3 linked regions of the Homo sapiens genome follow. The protein of the gene in region 1 binds, or shares a complex with, the protein of each later gene. Each region holds a gene or a part of one and is shown in the gene's direction. Other genes may lie near its edges. The genes, in order: GRB14, HRAS and INSR.

Region 1 (7,105 bases):
AGAAAATGGGAATAAATTTTTCTAGAAGCAGAACTATGTTCTGAATTGGCATCTTTGAAAGGGGGAATAAACCCTTAAGTGGGTGGGACTGTAACTTTGTTTGGGGAGACAAAGAGGAGACTCTCTTGAGACCTTTATTATCAGGATGAGGTTTAAAGTCAGATCCCAAGGAAAAAACAGCCCTAGTGAAACTTCCAAGCTCTTTGAGAGTTGACTTTTTGGTTTGGATAGAAAATGGAAGTAAGGATAATAGATTTGACTGTGTGCCATGGTAGTGGAAAAAAAAAAAAGAGGCCGGGTGCGGTGGCTCACGCCTGTAATCCCAGTAATCCCAGCACTTTGGGAGGCTGAGGCGGGCAGATCACGAAGTCTGAAGATTGAGACCATCCTGTCCAACATGGTAAAACCCCGTCTCCACTAAAAATACAAAAATTAGCTGGGTGTGGTGGCCTGCACCTGTAGTCCCAGCTACTCGGGAGGCGGAGGCAGGAGAATCGCTTGAACCCAGGAGGCGGAGGCTGCAGTGAGCTGAGATTGTGCCCCTGCACTCCACTCTGAACGACAGAGCGAGAATCTGTCCCCCGCTGACACTACCCCCCCCCCCCCAAAAAAAAGATTCTGGCTTGTCCTTGAGCCAGAGTAAGAAAAGGAAATGTCTGATGATGACATAATGGTCATCTGGAAGAATTTAATAGGTAGTTCCCAAATTACTAAGGGCCTGCTATGTTTCTCACAAATCCTAGGCAGTAAGGACCCTAGCTAAGCAACAATACCATGCAAGATATATTTAAAAGATGGGGCTTTGATTTGGGGTTGTGGTAGCGGGTGGAGCCTGAACCAGAAGGAAAGTAAAGGGAAGGATATCTGGGCTGACTCACTTTAATGCTATGAATGGACACTTGCAGAATGCCTGTGTCTGAGAGATTTGTTGATGATGCAGGGTTTGTTTTGAATAGAAAGTGAGAAGAGGTGTTGGTATGCTTATGTTAGTATAGGGGACAAAAGAGAAAGAATGGGTAAAGTGCCAGGGTTAAGGCAGGATGTGCCCTAAGTGTGGATAGTCATCAGACTAGAGTAAGACGTCTTAGAGATTGATGACATTTCCTCAGATCAGGTTTAAACTGGAAAATGGGCAAAAAAAAAATAGCAAACTGGAAATGGGGAAAAGGTGATATTGTTATTGACCCCAATAGGTTTCCTGCTCTGGCCTTGTATCCTGTGTCCACAATGACCTTCTCAAAGAACACTGTACCCACACACACACCTGTACTGTTCCCTGAGCAGAGAGTCCCCGCCTGATTTTTAAAGATCCATCCCAGAGGGCTGTCCCTACCTTTGAAGGGCCCTTCTTGCTGATCTCTTCCTTGGCCCAATGGTTGAGATCTCTATGAAGACAAGGGTACCCCAAAGTTGAGGAGGAGGGAGGCTGCTTTTTACTTTATTTTATGCTTCCTTTTTCCCCCACCTAGACTTTGCATTTAGAACTGATCCTTTTGCTTTAGTTTCTTTATACACACTCAGTTCTTTGAAATGAGGAAGGTTTTGAGAATAGATGACTCTATGTAAGTGAGTCCCCCAACTCAGTAGCTTTGCAACACATATTACCCTTTTACAAGATGCTGTTTTTGGCCCAGTTTATCTGTAACCTTCAGTTGAGATGATGTAAGTGACTATGCGATATGTTCTACTGAGTATTATTTATGGTTGAAATATTATAGGAGAAGATGTCTCTTTACTTTATATTCTCTCTCATTTGTCCTGTTTAACCATTCCAGTCATTTTAGTGATTCTTTTCTCTCCACAGAAAAAGTGAAGAAAATAATTGTACTTGTTATTTACAAATCAATGACCAGAAAATTTGAGAGAATCCAGACTAAAAATGTTAAATTTCATCTGGCCTTTCAAAATCACAGTCAAAAACCATCTTACAAGTCATAAATTTTGTTTACTATTTGAGATGCCTACATAATGCATGAGTGGTAAAGTGCATTGAAGCCACAAATGGGATATGTTTTATCACTTTTTGCAAATAAAATGTCCCAAAGTGTACAATACTGTAGGCTTTCAGTACCATTATTTTTAAATGAAAGCTAGAGTGAGAGAGAATCCATATTCTTTTTTTTTTTTTTTTTTTTTTTTTGAGACGGAGTCTCGCTCTGTCGCCCAGGCTGGAGTGCAGTGGCACAATCTCGGCTTACTGCAAGCTCTGCCTCCTGGGTTCATGCCATTCTCCTGCCTCAGCCTCCCGAGTAGCTGGGACTAGAGGTGCCTGCCACCACGCCCAGCTAATTTTTTTTGTATTTTTAGTAGAGACAGGGTTTTACCGTGTTAGCCAGGATGATCTCCATCTCCTGACCTCATGATCCACCCGCCTTGGCCTCCCAAAGTGCTGGGATTACAGGCATGAGCCCCTGTGCCCCGCGAGAATTCATATTCTTTATTCCCTTTCCCTCTTTTTATAATGATGGCCAGATTTCCTAGGCATCTTTCTTTGTGTTTACTAATAAAGCAAATTTAAAGTATACCTTCCCTTACATACATGGTCCAGAAAAGTTACTTATATTAAAAGTGACTTCCATTATGAACTTAATCTCTTTTTTCTAATTTATGATTTAAATTTATAAGGAAATCATCTGTTAGTAATGAACCCTAAACACCTATTGTTTGAAGGAAAGCAAAGAGTTAGAAATCTTTATTTAGCTCTTGCAGCAGAATCAGTTCTTGTCTTTTTTGTTGACCCCTAGGTAATTTTTGTGCTTGGACATAGCCTGTGTAGTAGCTCTGGTTAATTGCTTCCCAGGACTATGTTGTACAACTAAGTAAGAATAAAGCCTCTGAAGGCTTTAGAGATTTAAAAAATGCTATGAAAACCAGTGTCATGAAATGTTTGAGTTGGATGGGATTTTTCAGATCTTCTATTCCAATATTCTTCTTTAGTGATACGTAAATTGAGTTTAAGGAATGCTATGTGGCACAGCCAGCACCTGAAATCTGGATTTCTTGAGGCTTTGACAGTCCCTTTTTAGGAAGGTACAATTTCTAAAGAAAGCAAGGACTGTAAATAAGAGTAGTATAATAATACATGTGTACCAGTGTTGTTAGTTACAACTCTCCTCATAACACAAGAAGAACAGGGGAGACAAACGCCATTTGTTAATATTCATCTAAGGACCTGGAATTCCTCTTTTTATTTCTTCCCGAAATGTAACTACGTTTTTTCTTCTAGCTTTCTTCTCCATCTTCTCCCTAAAATTGGTCTGAGAAATCTATCAAATATTTGATTTTATTATCAAATAAGATTTATTAGTATTATTAATAACCAGCTTTTGTGTGTGGTTTACGGTCCACAGGATATTATTTCATGGGAACACAAGAAAATGAGTATGTCACCTGCATTTTAAGATTACAAAAAGAGTATGCAAAAACTGGAAGGGATTTGCCCATGCTTCCACAGTTTAAATAAAGGGAGATCAAAAAGAGTATCATGTCTCAATGTGTCCTGTCCCTTACCACACTGTTTCTAGTGTATTCTTTATTAAATTAAGCCTTTTTTTGTATGTCTCAGAAAAATAAAAATTTATCTCAAATAATTAAAAAATTAGTTTTCCATATGCTCGGCCTTTTATTTCTTTTTTCTCTACCATGTCACGGACTTTCAAAGGATAAGCAGATCTCTGTCCCCAAATTAAAGGGCCTCTTATATCATTCCTTTGTGATGCCAGTAATTACCCCACTTTGGACATGCTGAACTTGTATGTGTGGTCCTATAGGAATCTTGTGTGGCTGCTACATTAACTGAAATTTCATATACTTATTTTTCTAGTATACATAGAAGTAAAAGAAGAGAAACCCATGTACATATTGTAGTTTTTCCAGACTCAGCAATTATCAAGATTTTGCCTCATTTACTCCATCTATTTCTTTTTTAAAAATTTTATTTTCTTTGCTAAAGTATTTTGAAGTATATCCTGGACACCCCATCATTGCATCTCTACGTAGTTTTGTATTCATCTCTGAAAAATGAATTTTCTTTTATATCCCAAATGCCATTATTCCCTAACATAAATAACAGCAATTCCTTGATATCGTCTAAAACCATTCATAATTGAATTTTCTCAGTTGGAATGGCTCATGAAATTCTCAAATTACAAACTGCTTAGCTTTCAAATGTCTGAAAATTAGCTCTTTGGAAGTTTAAATTCATTTTTAGATGGAAACAACATCATAAATTGTATTTAGGCCCTCTGAGCTATTTTACAAAATCCCATTTAATTGGAAACAAAACATATATGCAGAAAGAATGATAGAAACAATACTCTCTCCTATTAGGGTTTCAAACAAATCTATCTTTCCAACGGCAATTTGCTACTTTTGAGTGCTGTCACTTGATGAATATAATTTTTTGGGAGAATTTGAAAGCGTGCAGATCTTTGTAGCAGTGTTGAAGCAGGCTTTACAGCTGCGCTTCTCAAAGTGTGGTCATTAAATCACCTTCTTCAGAATCAGCAGGGATGCTTATTAAAAATATGGATACTTGGACCTCTTGCAAAACCCACTGAATAGGAATGTTCTGGGGGAGGTTATAGGAATTTGATTTTTTATATTTTTTTCTCTTTGATATGTATACAAATCAGTGCTACTCTTAATCTCTACCATTTTCAAACTGGGGCAATTGGACCTTTCAAAACTGAGGACAGTTGTGTTTTGTTGACAAAGGTGAGTATGTTACAAATGGCCTTTAGTTGGTATTTTAGCCAGGTATTGATTGTTCAGACAAAACAGAGCCTCAAATGAACCAGCCTGAAAGGCTGTGTTGTAGTACCTGAAGGCCAAAAGGTCACTGGTCTCATGAGAGGCTGAAATTGGGAGCAAGAAAGTCAGCAAAAATCAAGTCAACCACTTTCTCTATTCTCTCTCTTTTGTTCTCCCACAAACATACCACATAGTCTCTGCCTCTCCTTGCAAATTCACATCATTTTTGAGATTTCTTTGCAGTGTTGCTTGCCCTGATTTCATGTCAGTGCCAGCGGCCTCAAGTGGCTGCTCCCAAGTTTTCCACCTATTAGTGGTTCAGTACTTGGTAACTGACTGGGAACTGTATCTGGAGAGGTATGTTAGTCCAGTGTGTCCAGATCCTATTCAATCAGATGTGGCCAAGGGGACAGTGGGCCCTGGACCACTGTTCAGTCTGCAAGGGTGTGGTAACATGTGAGAAAGAGGTACAGGTTTAGTAGGTATGGCATATGGAGGCACTATGTCCTAGGGGCAGCTAGTGTCCTAGGGGAAAAAAAAGATCTCAAACAGGACACAAAAACTAATTCTAATCATATTTGTATGATATATGATGATCCACCAATTGGTTTATTTGACTTAACGTACCCAGTTCAGAGTGTTCAGCTCCTTTGTCTCAATTCACTTAATGTACGTGAAGCATACTTATTGGGCAGTTGTTTCAGTTGATGTCACCCTTCAGGGATGCTCAGCTTCCTTGTCCATTTTCCTGAGCTTACGTCTTACTGAGGTCCCTTAACCCCTGATGACAGGAATTACCAACTCAGGTTCCTTCCCACCTTATGCTAGTTACCTTCATTGTAGGAGAAGTTAGCTTTCTTTTCCTATTTTAAAACTTAAATCCCCTAGCAGATCTTCTATTTGTCAAGGTTTTATTTCTAGTTTGAAGGTTGCCTTTAATTTTTGGTTAATTTGCAGGGTACATTTGCAGTCCAAGCTTTATCTACAATATGGGTTTTCTTTTTAACGTTATTGAAATCTCAGCTTCTGGTTTGTTTTTCCCTGGGGCATATAATATGTTCTGTCAAGAGAAAGAAAATTGGAGTCATCATGGTTCAATATAAGTGTGGATTTTAATTAATATAAAAAAGATTTCTGCAGTCTTATGGATATTGCTTTGAAAAAACGTCAGCTTATGTCAAATAGTAATAAACTCTATTGTATAAGTATATGCTTATGTGTATTTCAATGGTGGTAAGCAGACCTGAGAATTGTCCTTTTGACATTACAGATAAAGGTCAGCTCAAGGGAGACCCCAGAGAATGGCCACAAGTCTTTGCCAAGGCAAGGGAGTAGAAAGAAAGGGTTCAGGATTAATTTAGAAGAGAAATGGCAGGACTGACATAGGGAGACCATCCTTTAATTCTTGTCCTTTTCTTTGGCCCACTCATTTAACATTTTTTCAAAGCCACAGAAAAAATAAACACAAATAGGAGGTTTAATATTCTTAACCAGCTTACAAATGCTTGTATTCCAGAAGATCTTTAATAAATTGGCCATTTATTCACATACATTTTTCCATAGACGTATTGTTACATGCAGTGGTTAGGTGGTCAGGCCAAAGCCTTAAAATCCATAATGGCTCCAAAGTATAGTGCTCTTACAACATTGCGTGTACCGTTTTTAAAATTGCTTCTGTGGAAAGATGTGTCAATATGATGTGACTGAAAGATATTGGAACAGGAATCAGCAAACCTAGTTTTTAATACAGTCCTACTACAGATGAGGGGTGTTATATCAGCCCATTGCTCACCCTTTCTGTACCTGAGAGCTCTACAATTTTATTGTATTCCTAGAGCAAGTGATTCTGATGGCTCCAGAAGCAGTAATGGCTCCTGTGCAGCAGATACAGGAGTCGTGGAAAGCAGGGTTTCTTTTGTTCCACTAGCCCTAGAAGCTCCCTCTTAGCCTCTGTTCAGGTATTCCCATATAGTGACCACACTTTTTTGTGATAAAGAGTATGTTTGGGGTGTCATAGGACAAAGAGCACAGGAGTCACATTCATGGAAATAATTGGGGCAGAAGGGTCTGGTTAAACTAGAAACTGCAGCAAAGTCATAGTTCAAATATTAGAAGAAGAATCAGAAAAGGAATCACATCTAGTAGGAGCCAGCTCAAGTGGTGAAGTTAAAGTACAGGACCAAGCATCTAAACTTAGAAATAAGGATACGAGATAAGATGTGACCACTTGAGGCCGGCATAGGTCCAATACACATTTGGCTCTACTTGGTTTAATAGGTACGGGGTGGTCGTAACCTCTGAATTCTCTAAATTTATCTTTCTCCACCCTCAAATCATTTATTTGATTACTTAA
Region 2 (6,972 bases), on another chromosome or scaffold:
CACTGTCCTCCAGCCTGGGCAACAGAGCAAGACTCTGTCTCAAAAAAAAAAAAAAAAAAGGCTGGGTGCGGTGGCTCACACCTGTAATCCCAGCACTTTGGGAGGCTGAGGCGGGCAGATCACAAGATCAGGAGATCAAGACCATCCTGGCTAACGAGGTGAAACCCCATCTCTACTAAAGATACAAAAAACATAGTTAGCCAGGCGTGGTGGCGGACGCCTGTAGTCCCAGCTACTTGGGAGGCTGAGGCTGGGGAATGGCATGAACCCAGGAGGTGGAGCTTGCAGTGAGCCAAGATGGCACCACTGCACTCCAGCCTGGGCGACAGAGAGAGACTCCATCTCAAAAAACAAACAAACAAACAAAGATGCAGACATCTGCCTCGGCCCCAGGCCCTGGAATCATGAGCTCCAGGCGTGGAGTGACAAGTGTGCTCGGAGCGTCCAGTGTCCTCCTCCCTGACCACCTTCATGTGTCTTCAGTCTGGACCTGGACTGATCCCCTGACTGCACTCCCCACCCAGCCTTCCCAGATTTATCTTCCTGATGAGACGAGTTCCCTTCGGAGCCCTGTGTGTCTTACTACGTGTTCGGTTGAGGGCCTGCCTCGCCCCAGAGCTGTGGGCTGCACGTGGCCTGCACGTGGCCTGCGTGCTCCTCTGCTGTCCACAGTCGCAGGAGGGGATGCTCAAATATTTGTCGAAGGAATCCGTGAACAGGCAGATGCACATGTAGCCACTTAGAACGTTCTGGCCATGGCTTTTATCTGTTGACCACGTGTGGACACTGAAGATGCATCCTCTCCATCCCGTCTAGAGCTGCCCCTGTGCCAGGCGAGTTGGCCGGCTGTTGACAGAGGTGGTGGGTGGGAGTGTTGGAGCGGGGCAGTGGCTCAGGCTCTGGGTGCCTCACTGGCCTGGTCTGGAAGGTGACCATGCACCAAGGATCAAAGAAGTGAAGCCCAAAGCAGAATCTCATGGAGTTTCCAGCCCAAATCTCCCCCACTGCCTGCCTTTCTCCAGCCAGTGCAAGGCCCCAGGCCTCACAGCAGGACCCCAACACTGCATCCCCCCAAAGACTCTGGCCACCTCCATCCCAGGCCTGCCAGCCTCGAGCCTCATGGAGGGCGTGAGCTGGCGGGGTCACGGGCAGCCCCTGGACACCTATGGGTGACACTAAGGGCTGAGTCAGCTACCCTTGTCTCCTCTGTGCCCAAGAGCCCCAAGCATCAGACTGGTCTGAGCCCCAAGGCCTGGGGGTGCAAGGGGTTGGAGGCTGTGGGATCCAAAGACCCCATTGAACTCCCACCTCAGACACTGCACCTAGTGTTCTCACCCAGGCCTGAACCCATCCACACACTTCACGGCCCTGCTCCCACCCTGTGTCCCCTCTGCAAGCCCCCATGCTCCCCAAATTGGTAACTGGGGGGCCTGTCTCCACACCCCTGCTAGTGCCATTCCCTGGTGGGTAGCCATCACCTCTGGGTCCCCTGCTGCCCTCGCCCCTTCACCATGGGGGCTCGGAAGGCAGAGCCCGCTCCCCTCCTGAGCCCCACCCTGGAACCCTGAGCACCCTGGGTCATTGCCTCTGAGTCTCCCTCAGGGGCAGGGCTTGGGGCCCCTCCTGTCTCCTGACAGGGAGCCCTTTCAGTGCAGGGCCAGGGGGTGGTGGAGGCAAGGGTCCTCAGGGGACCAGATCTGACATGCGGGGCCATCACTGGGTCCCCGATGGCTGTGCTGCTTCGTCCCCGCGCCCACGCCTCGGCGCAGGTTCCCTCCTGGCACCGGTCATAGGGCGAGGCTTGCGGCTCCCACCCCAAGGGTGCGCTCGGCTCTCACCTGAGGGCTCAGCCTAGGTGTCCGGCCCTGGCAGCTCGGCCCTGGGCGCCCTCCACCTCCAGGCGCTGTCTCCTACTCCAGGCTGTTCTTCCGGCCGCCGCGGGGTTGCGGCCTGGGCGCCATAGCAACGGGAGCCAGGCCTCATTTGAATACGCAAATATTTATAAGTCGCCGGGGGCTCGGGTTCCGTGCGGCTGAGCCACGCCCCTTAGCAACGGTCGCTAGGGCGGGGCCACGTGGACTGGCACGTGCGTGGGCGCCCCTGCTGCGGGCGATCCCAGGGGAAGGTGACGCGCCACCAACTCGAGTTGGGTGGGCGCAGGCGCGTCAGGTGCCAGCTTCCTGCGGCTCCGTGCCTGGGCCGTCGCGATGCACGTGTCGCGTTTCCTCGCGATCCTGGCGCTTCCCACGCGGGGCGGGTAAAGGCGGTCTCTGCTGGAGGCTCGCGCCCACCTTTCCCAGGTGGAAGGGTCGCCCCTGGGGCCGAGGCCTGCCGTCCTGACCTTCGGTTGGAAGTGAGGCCGACGGCAAAAGGAAGCACCGGGGGAAGCGCCCCCGAGGACCAGGAAACACACACCGGACGCCGGAGCGCACCCGAGTGCCCGGCCCGCGGGACACGCTGCCGCCCGCCGTCCAGTCGCCGCTTCTCACTCGCGTTCATGCGTGTCCGCCCCGAGCCGAGCTCTGACTGCGACCGCGCGGTGGACGGACGGCAGGCGGGACCCCCGGGACCGCACGTGGGTGGAGCCCCGGGTCAGCAGCGACCGGCGCAGGAGGGCGAGGCGGGCGCTGGACTGGGCAGAGGCAGGGTTTGCCTGACTGTAAAACGCCTTTTTTGTTTTGAGACGAAGTAGCGCTCTGTTGCCCAGTGCAGTGGCGCGATTTCGGCTCACCGCAACATCCGCCTCCCGGGTTCCAGCGATTCTCCTGCCTCAGCCTCCCGAGTAGCTGGGACTACAGGCGCGCGCCACTGCAGCCGACTAATTTTTTGTGTTTTTAGTAGAGACAGGGTTTCATCATGTTGGCCAGGCTGGTCTTGAACTCCTGACCTCAAGTAATCCACCCGCTTAGGCCTCCCGAAGTGCTGGGATTATAGGCGTGAGCCACCGCGCCCGGCCCTTTTTGTTTTTTAATGAGGATGTATTTCTGATTCCTTTGCAATTTTAAAAAATGTTAAAAACATGTCTTTTTGGGTTTGAAAGAGCTAGGATGTGCGTCTATGTGCTTGGGGTGAGCCCTGGGCACTTCGCTCCCCTGTGGCAACTTGTGGGTACGGTTTAACTGGACCACGCTGAGCTTCTGCAGCGTTGGAACCTCAAGTTTGGGGGGACTGGGCGGGCAGGGTCGCCTGCCACGCAGGCCCGAGAAAGAGGAGAGTGGTGGAGGGGGCGTTCTCACGCCTGGCCCCAGGGCACACGGCTGCGCCCGCCGCCCGGAACCCCACCGGGGCTGCAAGCGTCCTCGGGGTGGGTTGCGGTGGGAGTAGGGGAGCTGGGGTGCGTGGTGGTAGGTGGGGTGCGCGGCCGCTCCACCTGCGCGGAAGGGCAGCCGGGCAACCGGACCCCGCGGCCACCCGGGGGCCCCCAGCTCCGAGCATCCCGCCTTGGTCCCGGCGGATCCCAGCCTTTCCCCAGCCCGTAGCCCCGGGACCTCCGCGGTGGGCGGCGCCGCGCTGCCGGCGCAGGGAGGGCCTCTGGTGCACCGGCACCGCTGAGTCGGGTTCTCTCGCCGGCCTGTTCCCGGGAGAGCCCGGGGCCCTGCTCGGAGATGCCGCCCCGGGCCCCCAGACACCGGCTCCCTGGCCTTCCTCGAGCAACCCCGAGCTCGGCTCCGGTCTCCAGCCAAGCCCAACCCCGAGAGGCCGCGGCCCTACTGGCTCCGCCTCCCGCGTTGCTCCCGGAAGCCCCGCCCGACCGCGGCTCCTGACAGACGGGCCGCTCAGCCAACCGGGGTGGGGCGGGGCCCGATGGCGCGCAGCCAATGGTAGGCCGCGCCTGGCAGACGGACGGGCGCGGGGCGGGGCGTGCGCAGGCCCGCCCGAGTCTCCGCCGCCCGTGCCCTGCGCCCGCAACCCGAGCCGCACCCGCCGCGGACGGAGCCCATGCGCGGGGCGAACCGCGCGCCCCCGCCCCCGCCCCGCCCCGGCCTCGGCCCCGGCCCTGGCCCCGGGGGCAGTCGCGCCTGTGAACGGTGAGTGCGGGCAGGGATCGGCCGGGCCGCGCGCCCTCCTCGCCCCCAGGCGGCAGCAATACGCGCGGCGCGGGCCGGGGGCGCGGGGCCGGCGGGCGTAAGCGGCGGCGGCGGCGGCGGCGGCGGGTGGGTGGGGCCGGGCGGGGCCCGCGGGCACAGGTGAGCGGGCGTCGGGGGCTGCGGCGGGCGGGGGCCCCTTCCTCCCTGGGGCCTGCGGGAATCCGGGCCCCACCCGTGGCCTCGCGCTGGGCACGGTCCCCACGCCGGCGTACCCGGGAGCCTCGGGCCCGGCGCCCTCACACCCGGGGGCGTCTGGGAGGAGGCGGCCGCGGCCACGGCACGCCCGGGCACCCCCGATTCAGCATCACAGGTCGCGGACCAGGCCGGGGGCCTCAGCCCCAGTGCCTTTTCCCTCTCCGGGTCTCCCGCGCCGCTTCTCGGCCCCTTCCTGTCGCTCAGTCCCTGCTTCCCAGGAGCTCCTCTGTCTTCTCCAGCTTTCTGTGGCTGAAAGATGCCCCCGGTTCCCCGCCGGGGGTGCGGGGCGCTGCCCGGGTCTGCCCTCCCCTCGGCGGCGCCTAGTACGCAGTAGGCGCTCAGCAAATACTTGTCGGAGGCACCAGCGCCGCGGGGCCTGCAGGCTGGCACTAGCCTGCCCGGGCACGCCGTGGCGCGCTCCGCCGTGGCCAGACCTGTTCTGGAGGACGGTAACCTCAGCCCTCGGGCGCCTCCCTTTAGCCTTTCTGCCGACCCAGCAGCTTCTAATTTGGGTGCGTGGTTGAGAGCGCTCAGCTGTCAGCCCTGCCTTTGAGGGCTGGGTCCCTTTTCCCATCACTGGGTCATTAAGAGCAAGTGGGGGCGAGGCGACAGCCCTCCCGCACGCTGGGTTGCAGCTGCACAGGTAGGCACGCTGCAGTCCTTGCTGCCTGGCGTTGGGGCCCAGGGACCGCTGTGGGTTTGCCCTTCAGATGGCCCTGCCAGCAGCTGCCCTGTGGGGCCTGGGGCTGGGCCTGGGCCTGGCTGAGCAGGGCCCTCCTTGGCAGGTGGGGCAGGAGACCCTGTAGGAGGACCCCGGGCCGCAGGCCCCTGAGGAGCGATGACGGAATATAAGCTGGTGGTGGTGGGCGCCGGCGGTGTGGGCAAGAGTGCGCTGACCATCCAGCTGATCCAGAACCATTTTGTGGACGAATACGACCCCACTATAGAGGTGAGCCTGGCGCCGCCGTCCAGGTGCCAGCAGCTGCTGCGGGCGAGCCCAGGACACAGCCAGGATAGGGCTGGCTGCAGCCCCTGGTCCCCTGCATGGTGCTGTGGCCCTGTCTCCTGCTTCCTCTAGAGGAGGGGAGTCCCTCGTCTCAGCACCCCAGGAGAGGAGGGGGCATGAGGGGCATGAGAGGTACCAGGGAGAGGCTGGCTGTGTGAACTCCCCCCACGGAAGGTCCTGAGGGGGTCCCTGAGCCCTGTCCTCCTGCAGGATTCCTACCGGAAGCAGGTGGTCATTGATGGGGAGACGTGCCTGTTGGACATCCTGGATACCGCCGGCCAGGAGGAGTACAGCGCCATGCGGGACCAGTACATGCGCACCGGGGAGGGCTTCCTGTGTGTGTTTGCCATCAACAACACCAAGTCTTTTGAGGACATCCACCAGTACAGGTGAACCCCGTGAGGCTGGCCCGGGAGCCCACGCCGCACAGGTGGGGCCAGGCCGGCTGCGTCCAGGCAGGGGCCTCCTGTCCTCTCTGCGCATGTCCTGGATGCCGCTGCGCCTGCAGCCCCCGTAGCCAGCTCTCGCTTTCCACCTCTCAGGGAGCAGATCAAACGGGTGAAGGACTCGGATGACGTGCCCATGGTGCTGGTGGGGAACAAGTGTGACCTGGCTGCACGCACTGTGGAATCTCGGCAGGCTCAGGACCTCGCCCGAAGCTACGGCATCCCCTACATCGAGACCTCGGCCAAGACCCGGCAGGTGAGGCAGCTCTCCACCCCACAGCTAGCCAGGGACCCGCCCCGCCCCGCCCCAGCCAGGGAGCAGCACTCACTGACCCTCTCCCTTGACACAGGGCAGCCGCTCTGGCTCTAGCTCCAGCTCCGGGACCCTCTGGGACCCCCCGGGACCCATGTGACCCAGCGGCCCCTCGCGCTGTAAGTCTCCCGGGACGGCAGGGCAGTGAGGGAGGCGAGGGCCGGGGTCTGGGCTCACGCCCTGCAGTCCTGGGCCGACACAGCTCCGGGGAAGGCGGAGGTCCTTGGGGAGAGCTGCCCTGAGCCAGGCCGGAGCGGTGACCCTGGGGCCCGGCCCCTCTTGTCCCCAGAGTGTCCCACGGGCACCTGTTGGTTCTGAGTCTTAGTGGGGCTACTGGGGACACGGGCCGTAGCTGAGTCGAGAGCTGGGTGCAGGGTGGTCAAACCCTGGCCAGACCTGGAGTTCAGGAGGGCCCCGGGCCACCCTGACCTTTGAGGGGCTGCTGTAGCATGATGCGGGTGGCCCTGGGCACTTCGAGATGGCCAGAGTCCAGCTTCCCGTGTGTGTGGTGGGCCTGGGGAAGTGGCTGGTGGAGTCGGGAGCTTCGGGCCAGGCAAGGCTTGATCCCACAGCAGGGAGCCCCTCACCCAGGCAGGCGGCCACAGGCCGGTCCCTCCTGATCCCATCCCTCCTTTCCCAGGGAGTGGAGGATGCCTTCTACACGTTGGTGCGTGAGATCCGGCAGCACAAGCTGCGGAAGCTGAACCCTCCTGATGAGAGTGGCCCCGGCTGCATGAGCTGCAAGTGTGTGCTCTCCTGACGCAGGTGAGGGGGACTCCCAGGGCGGCCGCCACGCCCACCGGATGACCCCGGCTCCCCGCCCCTGCCGGTCTCCTGGCCTGCGGTCAGCAGCCTCCCTTGTGCCCCGCCCAGCACAAGCTCAGGACATGGAGGTGCCGGATGCAGGAAGGAGGTGCAGACGGA
Region 3 (7,105 bases), on another chromosome or scaffold:
GAAGCCAACCTCGGCCTCATTGAAGAAATTTCAGGGTATCTAAAAATCCGCCGATCCTACGCTCTGGTGTCACTTTCCTTCTTCCGGAAGTTACGTCTGATTCGAGGAGAGACCTTGGAAATTGGGTACGTGGGCCTGATTGTGTGTATGGCCTGAGTGCTAACTAGGAAGTTCGTGTATTAGAACAACTTAAGGATTTTTTTGGCCAGGTGTGGTGGCTGATGCCTGTAATCCCAGCATTTTAGGAGGCCAACGTGGGTGAATCACTTGAGGCGGGGAGTTCAAGACCAGCCTGGCCAACATGGTGAAACCCTGTCTCTACTAAAAGTACAAAAATTAGCCAAGTGTGATAGTGCATGCCTGTAATCCCAGCTACTTGGGAGGCTGAGGCAGGAGAATAGCTTGAACCTGGGAGGCAGAGGTTGCAGTGAGCCAAGATCACACTACTGCACTCCAGCCTGGGTGACAGAGTGAGACTCTGTCCAAAAAAAAAAAAAGAAAAGAAAAGGAAAAACTTAAGGATTTTTTAAAAATCAAATAAAAACAAATAAAAAACAAATAAAAGTATATCTGGCAAAACCTCGGGAAAAAAGAACTTGGAATGTGCCTAAAGGTCCATCCAGCCAAAAATTGTAAAAGCTTTTTTATAGTCATTCTTGAGAAACAAAAGTGGGAGCAGCCCAACCTTGGTGCCCATCCTCCAAGGGTACAGGCTGGAATTTTTGCTAAATTTGCTGTTTGGGCTGCATTGTGAGTAGAGTTTGGCATGCATAAAATGAACATTCCCTCTTAGTCCCGGTTGTCCATCCTAATTTCTGGGATGGACTCCATCTCAGTATATTCCAGTATATTCCAACCTTCTCCTTGAGGTCCTAGAAACTCTATTAGCAAAACAGCAGAAACTCAAACTAGCTAGATCAAGATTGACTCATAGGCAGGAGGTCTGTGGAAGACCCAGATTCTTTCCATCTTTGTGCTCCTCATGGTCACAAGATGGCTGCCTCAGCCCCAGCCTCACATCTGTAGAACAGACAGCAAATGGGGAAAGGGACAAAAGGACATGTTAATCAACATGAGCTGGTAAGTGACTTGAGAAGGTGGTCTAAACAATATAGTTTAGACTATATTATCTGTACTCCAGCCTAGGCACCAGAGTGAGAATCCATCTCAATAAAACAAACAAACAAACAAACAAAAACCTTCAATGGCTCCTTTCTCCTTATTAAGGATGGCCACATGTTCTTGGTCTTGGTCTGGCATGCAATATACTAGAGGGTCTGGTCCATTGCAACTACAGCTATTTCCTGTCACCTATTGGCCAAAACAGGCTACTTTGCTCTTCCCTGAACTCAGCTTAGGTGCCTCTGTGTTATCAGTATTTCCCCTATTTGCAGAAATTGGTTTCTGCAAAACCTATTCCTCAGTCCATCACAGACTCACCACCCCTCTTCAAGACTGAGCTGAGCCTCCTTCCTGGCCATGAAAACTTCCTCAACTTCCTCTGTTATCCACATTCAACAAATATGTGTTGAGTATGTGCCAAGCAAGTGGAGAGGATTAGGCACGTAGCACTGAACAAGATCAACTCCGAGCATGGCCACACCATCTTGGAGTTGTAGAAGACCAGCCGTTGAATGACTAGATGTGTGTGTTTTTTCCATAGGAACTACTCCTTCTATGCCTTGGACAACCAGAACCTAAGGCAGCTCTGGGACTGGAGCAAACACAACCTCACCATCACTCAGGGGAAACTCTTCTTCCACTATAACCCCAAACTCTGCTTGTCAGAAATCCACAAGATGGAAGAAGTTTCAGGAACCAAGGGGCGCCAGGAGAGAAACGACATTGCCCTGAAGACCAATGGGGACCAGGCATCCTGTAAGTCACTGGTCCCCAACCTTTTTGGCATGAGGGACCGGTGTAGTGGAAGATGGTTTTTCCATGGACTGGTGGTGGGTGGGGATGGTTTCAGCATGATTCAAGTGCATTACATTTACTATGCACTTTATTCCTATTATGATTACATTGTAATATATAATGAAAGAATTGTACAACTCACCATCATGTAGAATCAATGGGAACCCTGAGCTTGTGTTCCTGCAACTAGATGGTCCCAGCTGGGGGTGATGGGAGACAGTGACAGATCATCAGGCATTAGATTTTCATAAGGAGTGTGCAGTCTAGGTACCTCATGTACACAGTTCACAATAGGGTTCACACCCCTGTGAGAATCTAATGCCGCCGCTAATCTGACAGGAGGCAGAACTCAGGTGGTCATGCAAGCGATGGGGAGTGACTGTAAATACAGATGAAGCTTCACTTGCTCACCTATCACTCACCTCCTGCTGTACAGCCCTGTTCGTAACAGGCCATGGATAAGTACTGGTCTGTGGCCCAGGGGCTGGGGACCCCTGCTGTAAGTGGTCCACAAACCAGATAATGTGGCTGTCCTCTCTCATCCATCACAGTCACCCCCAGGGGGTATTACTTCCCTCTAACAACTCACTGTGTGATAGGCTTTCTTACTGAGGGCAGATTCTGCACATTTATTAATATTATCACTATGCTTACTGTGCCATATAGTACCGGATACGGGATGAAGTCATACAAGCACTGAATGAATGGATGAATGAATGATGGATGAATGGATGACACCTTCTTATATGTGTATCAGGCTGATGCTGAAGACTTCAAAGTTGAGTAAAATACCTATGTCAGTCTGCATCTCCTGGGAAGTGACTGCCAAGTTGAAGTTAGGAGTGCAGAAAATGTATTGAGGGTAATATTCATAAAATATGAAACAGAGGAAGAGCTTCTTTTTTTTTTTTTTTTTTTTTTGGGACAGAGTCTTGCTCTGTCACCCAGGGCTGGAGTGCAGTGGCGTGATCTTGCCTCACTGCAACCTCCTTCCCCTGGGTTCAGGTAATTATCTCGCCTCAGCCTCCAGAATAGCTGGGATTACAGGCACATGCCACCAAGCCCGGCTAATTTTTTTTTTTGTATTTTTAGTAGAGACAGGGTTTTGCCATGTTGGCCAGGGTGGTCTTGAACTCCTGACCTCAGGTGATCCTCCCGCCTCGGCCTCCCAAAGTGCTGAGATTACAGGTGTGAGTCACCACGCTCAGCCATGAAGAGCCTTTTGACAATAGCGTGTGTCTGACCTCTGTGAACAGAGAGCGGGAAGGAGGGAGGATAGGGCTGGGAGAGTCTCAGATGGTGATGCATCCCTGAGTCTTGGCCAAACCCAGAAAGAGATCAAGGCCACGGTTGTCTGCAGGGAAGTTCTGCATTGCAAAGGGACGGCCAGGCATCTACCAAGCTCAGTCATAGGTGGGGGCTGTCCAGGGAGAGTCAGGTTTTGGCTGGAATGCTACAGCAGGTCCTGCAGTTTCTGCAGCTGCAGGCTGCCTGCTGACTGCACTTCCCTGACAGATTCTAAACAGTGAGCTGCCAAGGGCTTCTGGGATACCTTCATGGGGAGTTAGTTACTTATGTCAAAATGTAGTGCAAGGGCTGGGCATGGTGGCTCACGCCTGGAATCCCAGCACTCTGGGAGGCCGAGGCAGGCAGATCACTTGAGGTCAGGAGTTCGAGACCAGCCTGGCCAATGTGGTGAAACTCCATCTCTACTAAAAAAAAAAAATACAAAAACTAGCTGGACGTGGTGGTGGGTGCCTGTAATCCCAGCTACTTGAGAGGCTGAGGCATGAGAATTGCTTAAACCCGGTAGGTGGACTGCACTCCAGCCTTGGTGACAGAGCAAGACTGTCTCAAAAAAAATGTAGTGCAAGGAGAGAGAGCGAGGTTGGGGTGAGGTTTAGGAGAGGGTTTGTCTTCTAGGCAGAGAGAATTACTTAGATGCGTCTCTCCGATGTCTAATGATCTGCAGGGTCTCTAAACTCACTTGGCATAGGTTTATTTGCACTGGAGTTGCACCTCCTTCCAGGTCAGTCTTACAAGTCCATATGCGAGACAACGTTGTGTCAGGACAAACATCACCCTTGGAAATCCCTTCCTCCAATAACTATTGGCCGGTTGTCCTTCTTGCGCGGGTACAGACTGCGCTTATTCAGTTGACTGTCTGGCTGAGTCAAGTCATTGGCTTACGTGAGTGTGAGTGGCCAAGTTGCAAAACTGGCTCTTACCTTTGAATCTTCCCCCATTCATACTCAGCCAGGCACATGGGGAGGAGACCCTTAAGGGAATAGCAGCGTCACCTCTGCCTTCTCACGGTCCCTCCAGGAAGTGTGGGGGTCCCAGGCTTTGGTCTGAAACTACACTGAAATAGCTCATTTTTGCCTTTTGTTTTAACTTTTCCAGGTGAAAATGAGTTACTTAAATTTTCTTACATTCGGACATCTTTTGACAAGATCTTGCTGAGATGGGAGCCGTACTGGCCCCCCGACTTCCGAGACCTCTTGGGGTTCATGCTGTTCTACAAAGAGGCGTAAGTAGAAGAGTTAGAGAGACGCTGAGGAGGCGAGGGCTGGCTGGCTCTGTGCTTGCTACGTTTGTGCTCCAATCTGCCCCTCTTGGGTTCCTGTCTATCTCCCTCCTCCTCCTGGAATAAATATCTTAGGTTCCTTTTTACAATCTCACCAGTCGATGGCATGCAAAGTCAATAGTGTCTGCTTTTATCAAATGCCTAAAATGGAAGCAGACAGCTTTCCCATAGAAGCCCGGACTGGCCAGTTTCCTGGGGCAATATTCTATTTTGCCTTGCCTGTGTATGTCTCATCAGACATCCTTAGTAGTCAGGAGCTCAGTCTACTAAGTGGATGTTATCAAATGTATTGCTTATCTATTTTTCTTTTTTATCCCCAATTTTTTTTTTTTTTTTGAGACAGAGTCTTGCTCTGTTGCCCAGGGTACAGTGCAGTGGCAGATCTTGGCTCACTGCAACCTCTGCCTCCCGGGTTCAAGCAGTTCTCCTGCCTCAGTCTCTTGAGTAGCTGAGATTATGGGCATACACCATCACACGTAGCTAATTTGTGTATTTTTGATAGAGACGGGTTTTGCCATGTTGGCCAGGCTGGTCTCAAACTCCTGACCTCAGGTGATCTGCCCACCTTGGCCTCCCAAAGTGCTGGGATTACAGGCATGAGCCACCGCACCTGACCAGTAGTAATATTAATAATAGTTCTAGCCCTCAAGATTTACCTTGTGCCTTGCTGAGCACTGACACACAGTCTAATCTTATCAGTAACTTGTGAGGGAGCTCCTGCTATTACTATTATTACAGATTGAGTATCCCTAATCTGAAAATCTGAAATTTATAATGCTCCAAAATCCAAAGCTTTTTGTGGGCCGACTTGATACTCAAAGGAGATGCTTATTGGAGCATTTCAGATTTCAGATTTTTAGATTAGAGATGCTGAACCAGTACAATGCAAATTAACTAGTAAAATGCAAATATTTCAAAACCCCAAAATATCCAAAATCCAAAACACTTCTGGTCCCAAGCATTTATTTATTTATTTATTTATTTATGTTTTTGAAACAGAGTCTCCCTTTGTCGCCCAGGCTGGAGTGCAGTGGTGCGATCTCAGCTGATGCTACCTCTGCCTCCCGGGTTCAAGCAATTCTCCTGCCTCAACCTCCTGAATAGCTGGGATTACAAGCATCTGCCACCATGCCCAGATAATTTTTGTATTTTTAGTAGAGACGGGGTTTCACCATGTTGGCCAGGCTGGTCTCGAACTCCTGACTTCTGGTGATCCGCCATTCTCGGCCTCCCAAAGTGCTGGGATTACAGGCGTGAGCCACTGCACTTGGCCAAGTCTCAAGTGTTTTGAATAAGGGATGCCCAAGCTGTGTTTTTTCATTGAGATGTCAGGGTTGACAGTTCCTTTCTCTTTGGCTGTTCCCGAGTTATTTTTTCTTGTGGCATTAGATTGTTGGGTGAGTAACATGTGACCCTATGGGATGTAACTTCCCAGGCCTCATCTGCACGGCACTCAGTGTGACGGTCTTGTAAGGGTAACTGCCTTCTGCTGTTTTGTCTTGAAAGCCCTTATCAGAATGTGACGGAGTTCGACGGGCAGGATGCGTGTGGTTCCAACAGTTGGACGGTGGTAGACATTGACCCACCCCTGAGGTCCAACGACCCCAAATCACAGAACCACCCAGGGTGGCTGATGCGGGGTCTCAAGCCCTGGACCCAGTATGCCATCTTTGTGAAGACCCTGGTCACCTTTTCGGATGAACGCCGGACCTATGGGGCCAAGAGTGACATCATTTATGTCCAGACAGATGCCACCAGTGAGTGTGTCTTGGGAATGTGAATTCGTATGTGAATCAGACCTCTTGCTTTTAATAGGCTGATGCAGTGAGGTTGTATAAAATGCTCCTTGATATGGTTATTGGCTTTTTTTTTTTTTTTAGACAGGGTCTTACTTTGTCACCCAGGCTAGAGTGCAATGCAGTGGGGTGATCATGGCTCACTGCAGCCTCAAACTCCTGGGCTCAAGCAATCCTTCTGCCTCAGCCTCCTAAGTAGAAGGAACTACCAGAGTATACCACCATGTGTGGCTTTTTTTTTTTTTTTTCTTTGAGATGAAGTCTCACTCTGTCACCCGGACTGGAGTGCAATGGCATGATCTCGGCTCACTGCAACCTCCGCCTCCCAGGTTCAAGTAATTCTCCCACCTCAGCCTCCTGAGTAGCTGGGACTACAGGCATGCACCACTATACCCAGCTAATTTTTGTATTTCTTGTAGAGACAGAACGTTGCTGTGTTACCCAGGCTGGTCTTGAACCCCTGGCCTCAAGTGATCCTCCTGCCTCGGCCTCCCAAAGTCCTGGGATTAGAAGTGTGAGCCACCTTGCCCAGTCAGTTATTGGCTTTTAAAGGAGCTGGGTATTGAGGCTTATAGTTTCAGACGAGGCAGTAGCAACAAGCCACTTGATGGGAATATTTATATTTTTCATCCTATTATGAAAAATTGTCAAATATTCACAACACAGAACAAAACCCCATAGTTAGCCGCCTCCCAGCTTCAGCCTTTGGTCATTTTTGTTTCATCTCGACGCCTGTTCCCTCTTCCCACTTGTTACTTCTTTTTGTTTTGTTGTTTGTTTTGGCCTGGAGTATTTCACAGCAATT

The links.
Region 2: the proteins of GRB14 (region 1) and HRAS are in contact, whole or in part, in a crystal structure (PDB 4K81), measured with the Homo sapiens proteins. Residues at the interface, in NP_004481.2 of Homo sapiens: Val109, Lys111, Asp116, Glu117, Thr118, Ser119, Arg120, Ala121, Leu122, Asp123, Lys140, His142; in NP_001123914.1 of Homo sapiens: Glu31, Asp33, Pro34, Ile36, Glu37, Asp38, Ser39, Tyr40, Arg41, Tyr64, Met67.
Region 3: the proteins of GRB14 (region 1) and INSR are in contact, whole or in part, in a crystal structure (PDB 2AUH), measured with the Homo sapiens proteins. Residues at the interface, in NP_004481.2 of Homo sapiens: Glu373, Asn374, Ser375, Leu376, Val377, Ala378, Met379, Asp380, Phe381, Ser382, Ser386, Val388, Ile389, Glu394, Val398, Ala399, Glu401, Glu402, Gly403, Leu404, Trp406, Arg407; in NP_000199.2 of Homo sapiens: Leu1065, Arg1066, Ile1069, Glu1070, Lys1112, Arg1116, Arg1163, Met1180, Arg1182, Tyr1190, Lys1192, Gly1193, Gly1194, Lys1195, Gly1196, Leu1197, Leu1198, Pro1199, Val1200, Trp1202, Ser1207, Leu1208, Lys1209, Asp1210, Gly1211, Gln1235, Asn1242, Glu1243, Leu1246.

Annotation. Positions count from the first base shown.
Region 1 is NC_000002.12:164,611,461-164,618,565, reverse strand, and holds part of GRB14 (growth factor receptor-bound protein 14), read left to right. Parts: intron 1-7,105. UniProt on the Homo sapiens protein: Adapter protein which modulates coupling of cell surface receptor kinases with specific signaling pathways. Binds to, and suppresses signals from, the activated insulin receptor (INSR). Potent inhibitor of insulin-stimulated MAPK3 phosphorylation.
Region 2 is NC_000011.10:532,472-539,443, reverse strand, and holds the start of HRAS (GTPase HRas), read left to right. Parts: upstream 1-3,867; 5' UTR 3,868-4,028; intron 4,029-5,068; 5' UTR 5,069-5,121; coding exon 5,122-5,232; intron 5,233-5,499; coding exon 5,500-5,678; intron 5,679-5,831; coding exon 5,832-5,991; intron 5,992-6,085; coding exon of another isoform or gene 6,086-6,167; intron 6,168-6,688; coding exon 6,689-6,808; 3' UTR 6,809-6,813; exon of another isoform or gene 6,814-6,921; 3' UTR 6,922-6,972. UniProt on the Homo sapiens protein: Involved in the activation of Ras protein signal transduction. Ras proteins bind GDP/GTP and possess intrinsic GTPase activity.
Region 3 is NC_000019.10:7,165,310-7,172,414, reverse strand, and holds part of INSR (insulin receptor isoform Long preproprotein), read left to right. Parts: coding exon 1-125; intron 126-1,663; coding exon 1,664-1,878; intron 1,879-4,320; coding exon 4,321-4,447; intron 4,448-6,010; coding exon 6,011-6,261; intron 6,262-7,105. UniProt on the Homo sapiens protein: Receptor tyrosine kinase which mediates the pleiotropic actions of insulin.